Regions from separate parts of the Homo sapiens genome. Here region 2 is linked to region 1. Evidence: fine-mapped expression QTL. Tissue or cell type: lung. Region 1 holds a variant in brackets; the other region holds the start of a gene. All regions are shown on one strand. Distances are between the middles of the regions. Region 1 overlaps TUBGCP2 (tubulin gamma complex component 2). Region 2 holds the start of PAOX (polyamine oxidase).

What was found. PIP is the estimated chance that this variant, and not a neighbour inherited with it, causes the effect.
Region 2: it holds the start of PAOX, and the variant in region 1 is the best candidate, but not a certain one, in a credible set for the expression of PAOX in lung (TOPMed, PIP 0.78).

The regions. Positions count from the first base shown.
Region 1 is chr10:133,298,244-133,301,144 of GRCh38, reverse strand. TUBGCP2 (tubulin gamma complex component 2) reads left to right here. Exons shown (of 18, transcript NM_006659.4): 3 at 1,032-1,160; 4 at 1,542-1,718. Among named protein-coding and RNA genes, the nearest start is that of TUBGCP2, 9.2 kb to the left of the region's middle. The variant C/T (reference allele first, on the strand shown) is at 1,400.
Region 2 is chr10:133,377,980-133,380,880 of GRCh38, reverse strand. PAOX (polyamine oxidase) reads right to left here and starts at 1,619. Exons shown (of 7, transcript NM_152911.4): 1 at 1,384-1,619; 2 at 396-882. The coding sequence starts at 1,564. It overlaps LOC124902563 (a long non-coding RNA gene), which reads left to right and starts at 1,990. Exons shown (of 2, transcript XR_007062395.1): 1 at 1,990-2,901. RefSeq lists silencers at 1,284-1,693, 1,794-2,053 and an enhancer at 2,027-2,526.

The DNA of each region.
Region 1 (2,901 bases):
AAGAAAAAGCATAACCCCTAGGGTTGCACATAATAACAAATTCCAGAGGGAACATAGTGAGGTGTATACAATGAACGCATAAACTACTGCGGGGAATACAGTGAGATGCAGACAATGAACGCATAAACTACTGGGGGGAAAAGGTAAGTCGCTACTCTCCAGTACAAACCTGAAGAAGCATAAAAGGGAACACAGTGAGATGCATACAATGAACGCATAAACTACTGGGGGGAAATGCAAGTTGCTACTCTCCAGTACAAACCTGAAGCAGCATAAAAGGGAATACAGTGAAATGTATACAATGAACGCATAAACTACTGGGGGGAAGTGTAAGTCGCTACTCTCCAGTACAAACCTGAAGAAGCATAAAAGGGCGGGCGCAGGGGCTCACACCTGTAACGCCAGCACTTTGGGACGAGGCAGGTGGATGGCTTGAGCCTGGGAGTTTGAGAGCAGTCTGGGCAACATGGTGAAATCCTGTCTCTAGAAAAAATTAAAATAATACGAAGAAGCACAAAAGGAAAGGAACCATAATGGGAAATACGGATAAGGTTTGTTTTGTTTTGTTTTGAGACAGAGTCTTACTCTGTCACCCAGGCTGGAATGCATGTGGCACGATCTTGTCTTACTGCAGTCTCAACCTCCCAGGCTGATGTGATCCTCCCATCTCAGCTTCCCAAGTAGTGACCACAGGCAAGTGCCACCACGCCTCGCTAATTTTTGAATCTTTTTGTAGAAATGGGGTTTTGTTATTTTGGCCAGGCTGGTCTTGAACTCCTGGACTCAAGCAGTCTACCAGCCTCGGCCTCCCAAAGTGCTGGGATTACAGTCATGAGCCACTGCCTAGCTCAAAACATGGATAAGTTTAACACAATATGGAGATGAGTTTTGTTAGTTTATTTCAGAGGGATAATTATTTAACCTACCCAATTTAATTCCATTGGCTTATTGTGTTCAATTTTCGTAAAGGTTTTTTTTTACAGTGCTTTATTAATTACCGTCATTAAATCACTCATGTTTGTGCTTTTGAGGTTAAAATTGCAGAGTTTTCTCGTACTCCAGAAGACTTTCTAAAGAAATATGATGAACTGAAATCTAAAAATACAAGGAACCTTGACCCGCTGGTGTACCTGTTGTCAAAGCTCACGGAAGACAAAGAGGTAGGTGCCCATGCCACGTGCCACACTGCGCCCGTACGGCCCATGTTGGGAGTGGGGTCGCGTCTCCTGCTCACTCCACGCCATCTTCCTGTCAGCTCTTCCTCGCTCACACCAGTAACGCTTCTAGGCCATGTAGGAAATTTTTGGTGAATCAGAATGAAAGATAACCCATGTTGGGTGTAAACATGAGAAGCAGCCTCTGGGGCACTTTGAGCTTCCCGCATGTGTCACGCTCAGTT[C/T]CTGCCTGTCGCACGCGTCGCTTTGCTATTAATGGGTGCCTGTCAGGGTTGGGGAGCCGTCCTGGTGGTGTCGTCCCTACTCTCCCCCTATGGCCAAAGAGGTGCTGGCCCAGTGTGAACACACAGTTTTACATGTTTTCAGACTCTGCAGTACTTACAACAGAATGCAAAAGAAAGAGCTGAGCTTGCAGCCGCTGCTGTGGGCAGCAGTACCACCAGCATCAACGTCCCTGCCGCGGCCTCCAAGATCTCCATGCAGGAGCTTGAGGAACTGAGGAAGCAGCTTGGCAGCGTGGCCACAGGCTCCACGCTGCAGCAGGTACTGCGTCCATGGCTGTCCACAGGCTCCATGCTGCAGCAGGTCCTGTGTCCGTGGCGTCCACAGGCACCCACACTCAGTGCTGTGCCGGGCCCCTGCTGGAAGGACATGTCTCTCTGTCATTTATTGAAAATGAATCCCTTAGAGAGGCCAAGGCTTAATGCTTGATCATGACCTAGCTCTATATGTTTAGTTTTTTTTTTAACCAAGAATTCTGGACCACAAGAATCAATAGCAGCAAGGTTCTGACCCACGTGGGAGTTGTGCTGCCAGGTGGCCACGTGACTCTGAGCCTACCCAATCCTGACTCCCCATTTCCCTCCTCCAATTTTTGACAATTTTGAGGGAATGCTTTCAGATCATTATATTTTCAAGATTCTCGAAAATACAGTAATTTTTATTATTCCTTCTGTATTTGCTACTTGCTCTTGGTTTTGATTTTATGCCCTACCCTGGTCTTTTGACGTAAGTCATCTCCCAGTCTCTCTCATTAGAGCTGCCACGTTCCTGCCTTTGTGACCTTTAAACTCCCTTTGGAGCTGTGTCCCTGAGGCGTCCTAGCCTCCTGGGTGCGTGTTGAGTGCAGCGGCTCCCAAGGACCCAGCCGGTTCTTGCTGGGCACGTTCTGTGCTGGACATGGTGCTAGGCCTCTGTCCACGTCTCCCTCAGCCGTGGCAGAAGACTGGGTCTTACTGCCACGTGCAGAGACAGTTTGCATCTGCCCGTGTCCCTGACCAGCCCTGAGTGGGAGTCAGTGCTTCCGAAAGCTGGGCCAGCCCAGGCCGACCCCATCAGCCTCTGGCGGCCACTGGCGCAGGAGGGCAGGCTCTCTGACCACATGTCAGGAGCCATCCTGTCACGCTGGGGCCCTTCTCCGGCAGGGTAAGGATGCATGTCTGTTGCTGAAGCCTGTCTTCACCCATCAAGTGGTGTTCAGACCTAGTCACTGCCAGAAAGAAGCAATTCAGCTTGTTCACAGGGCGCCCTCCTTTGAAACAGCGGCTCTGTGCCTAGGTGCACCCTCTCCCGTGGTTCCCACTGCTGGTGCTCATGTTTTCCCAGGGGGGCCCTTGCAGGACCTGCACTCCTGAGAAGAGGGGCTAGGGCTCCCCATCTGCCCTGTTGTCCCCAGCCCCTCACGTTGTGGCAGGCAGGGATGTCGAGGCGCATTTCATTTCTATGT
Region 2 (2,901 bases), 80 kb before region 1:
TCAGCCTCCCGAGTAGCTGGGATTACAGGCATGCACCATCACGCCCGGCTAATTTTTGTATTTTTAGTAGAGATGGGATTTCACCATGTTGGCCAGGCTGTTCTTGAACTCCTGACCTCATGATCCACCTGCCTCAGCCTCCCAAAGTGCTGGGATTACAGGCGTGAGCCACCGCACTCAGCCTTACCTTTCCTTCTTTTAAACACTCTCTCTCAGAAATAACTTTTTTGGCTTAAATGAGCAAAACTAGGGAAAGGAGCAACCAGTCTGTCGGAATGGGGAGGACAAATGGTCTCCTGTCCCTCCCATACCCAAGCAAGAGCGGAGCTCAGCCAGCCCCGGTGCCCTGGGGAGCCTGGTGGGAGGACTGGCGGGGCAGGGGCTCAGGCACGCACTTAGAAAAGGTGCAGTCCAGCCCCGGCAGCACGGTATACTCCCCAAAGGGTGCCAGGGCCACCAGGTCCATGCTGTGGGTGCCGCTCACACAGCATTCCAGGTTGAAGAAGGAGTTCAGGACGGCCAGCTTCAGCTTCCTGGTCTCCTCATCCTCTGTCCAGCCGGCCACGTGCTGGCCAATCTCCTTCTTGAGGTACTCCCCGACGCTGGGCACCGGGGTCTCTGCAGCGTGCAGGAACTCCCGGGTCTGGTCTATCAGGCCGTAGAACAGAGTCGCCATCTCCGCCACCAGCTGGAGGCTCACGCTGGCCCCGGAGCTGGCGTAGCTCACGGAGGGCAGGCCCACGTGACCCCCGGTCTCCACCAGCTGGTTCTCCTGGGACAGCTCCTTCTCCCCCAGCAGCCCGTACTCAGCAGCCAGCTGGAAGACGGGGTTACCCCGGGAGGGCCCATGGATCCAGTGCGCGCCCACCTCCACCACGCCACCTGCGAGGGGACAGCAGATGCCACCTGGAGGTCCCTTTCCTAGAAGGGTCACCCCGAGCCCTTCTCCTGGGCCACGCCCACGCTGGCCTTCCCAAGGAGGATGTACCACACTGTCCCCAAGGGCCCTGTGGTCCCCCAGGGCAGGGCCCTGTCAGACCCAGTTTAAGGGGAGCACCTGGGCAGGAGGGCACTTGTCGGGCGGTGTGGACCAGAGGGAGGGGCGCAGGGTGGGCGTACCCCGGGGCTGGGGGGGCCCCCGTGGGGCAGAATCAGGGCGGCCTTGTGGAGCCGTAGGTCGCCTTCCCTGGCCGGCGCCCTCCTGACTAACTCTGAGCCCTGAGTTTCGGGGCGGTGAACTCTGGCGGATTAAGCGAGCGGGGATTCCCTCGGGGAGCCCGGTGAGGCGGCCGGGCAGGTCGGCTGCGCGCAGGGCAGGTTGGGGCCGGCGAGTTCGGGCGCAGCCGGTTGGGTTCCGGGAGGGGCTCCGGGAGGGGCGGTTACCGAAGCAGCGCTCCGAGCGGATGCGGCCCCCGGCGCGGGCCGTGGCCTCCAGGACCCGCAGGTGCGGGAAGGCGGAGTGGCCGCAGAGCCTCTGCGCCGCGCCCAGCCCCGCGATGCCGCCGCCCACCACCAGCACCCGGGGTCCGCCCGGGGCCTCCCCGACGCTGCCGGTCGACTCCATCGCGCGGTCCGGGCAGTCCGAGGGCTTCTGAGTAGCCGGGAGGTCTGGAGCTCTCGGAGGAGGCCGGAGGCGGAGCGAGGGGGCGGGGAGGCGCTGGGAGGGGCGGGGAGGGGCGGGGAGGCGCGGGGAGGCGCGGGGAGGGGCGGGGAGGGGCGGGGAGGGGCGGGGAGGCGCGGGGAGGGGCGGGGAGGCGCGGGGAGGGGCGGGGAGGCGCGGGGAGGCGCGGGGAGGCGCGGGGAGGCGCGGGGAGGGGCGGGGAGGGGCGGGGAGGGGCGGGGAAGGGGCCGGGCCGAGCCCCACAGTGCGCCTCGGCCTCCGCGAGCCTCCGGACTGGGCTCGGGTCTCAGAGGGAAGCGCCCCGCGTGGGAGGGCCCGCGAGGACAGGCGTCAGGGAGCGTCCCGCGCTGCCGGGCGGTGCGCGCGAGCGTCCCCATGGAGGGAGAAGCCGGCCGGCCGGGCGGGCCAGTGTCTCCTCCAAGGGAGACGAGGGCGCAGCGAGCGCTTCCCCCAGGGACCCGCGTCGAGTGCGAGGGCGCAGTGGGTCTGGGGGTGCCACGGTGTCAGGGGTGGGACCTGGGAGAGCTTAACGCGTCCGGAGGGGGGCTGTGAAAGCCTCCAGCATCGCCAGCGAGCCGTCAGTTCGCGTGTGCGCGCGCCTGCGTGTGCGCGTGTAGTCACAGGGCTGCAGGGACACAGGACCAAAGTACAAAGTACACTCGCAAAGTACAAAGTTCAGAAGCCGAGGGCAAGTGCAGAAACGTCCCTCGCCCGGGAAGTTGAGCGCACACCCAGGCACGCCTGTGTTTCTGGAGAATCCCCGGTGCAGGCGGCCGAGTTTTCTGCTGCATCGCAGCCCGCGGGGGTTGGAAAGGCTCCCGCCCTGTTTTCAGGCGCGTCCCCGCCTCCTGAGCCCCGGTCCTCTGCCGAGGGGCCGCGCGCTCCAGTTTGCCAGCGTGAGCTTCACTCTTCGCTCTCGGCGTGGGCCTCCTGAGCCGTGTCTTACTTTCCTTTGATTCCCTCTCGTCCCAGCTGGAGAAAAGGCTCCCGGAAGGGTGACCTGGTGTCGCTGGATTCCACTCCCCATCACTCCCTAGCCAACCCCGCGAGCTGAGCTCCAGGCAGGGAGAGGGGCGGGTGCCTGGGAGTCGGGCTGACTCCCTGGGCGGTGGCGGGCAGGGGTCGAGCGTCCTCTGTCCGTCAGGGGCCCGCAGCACCAGGAGGCGACGCTGGATGCAGTGGCCATCTCCTCCTGCCTCCAGGCCATGGGGAACCCAGGGCGGATCCCGGGTCAGCAGGGCCAGCTGTCCACCAAGCTGACCCACCCGACATGCCAGGAC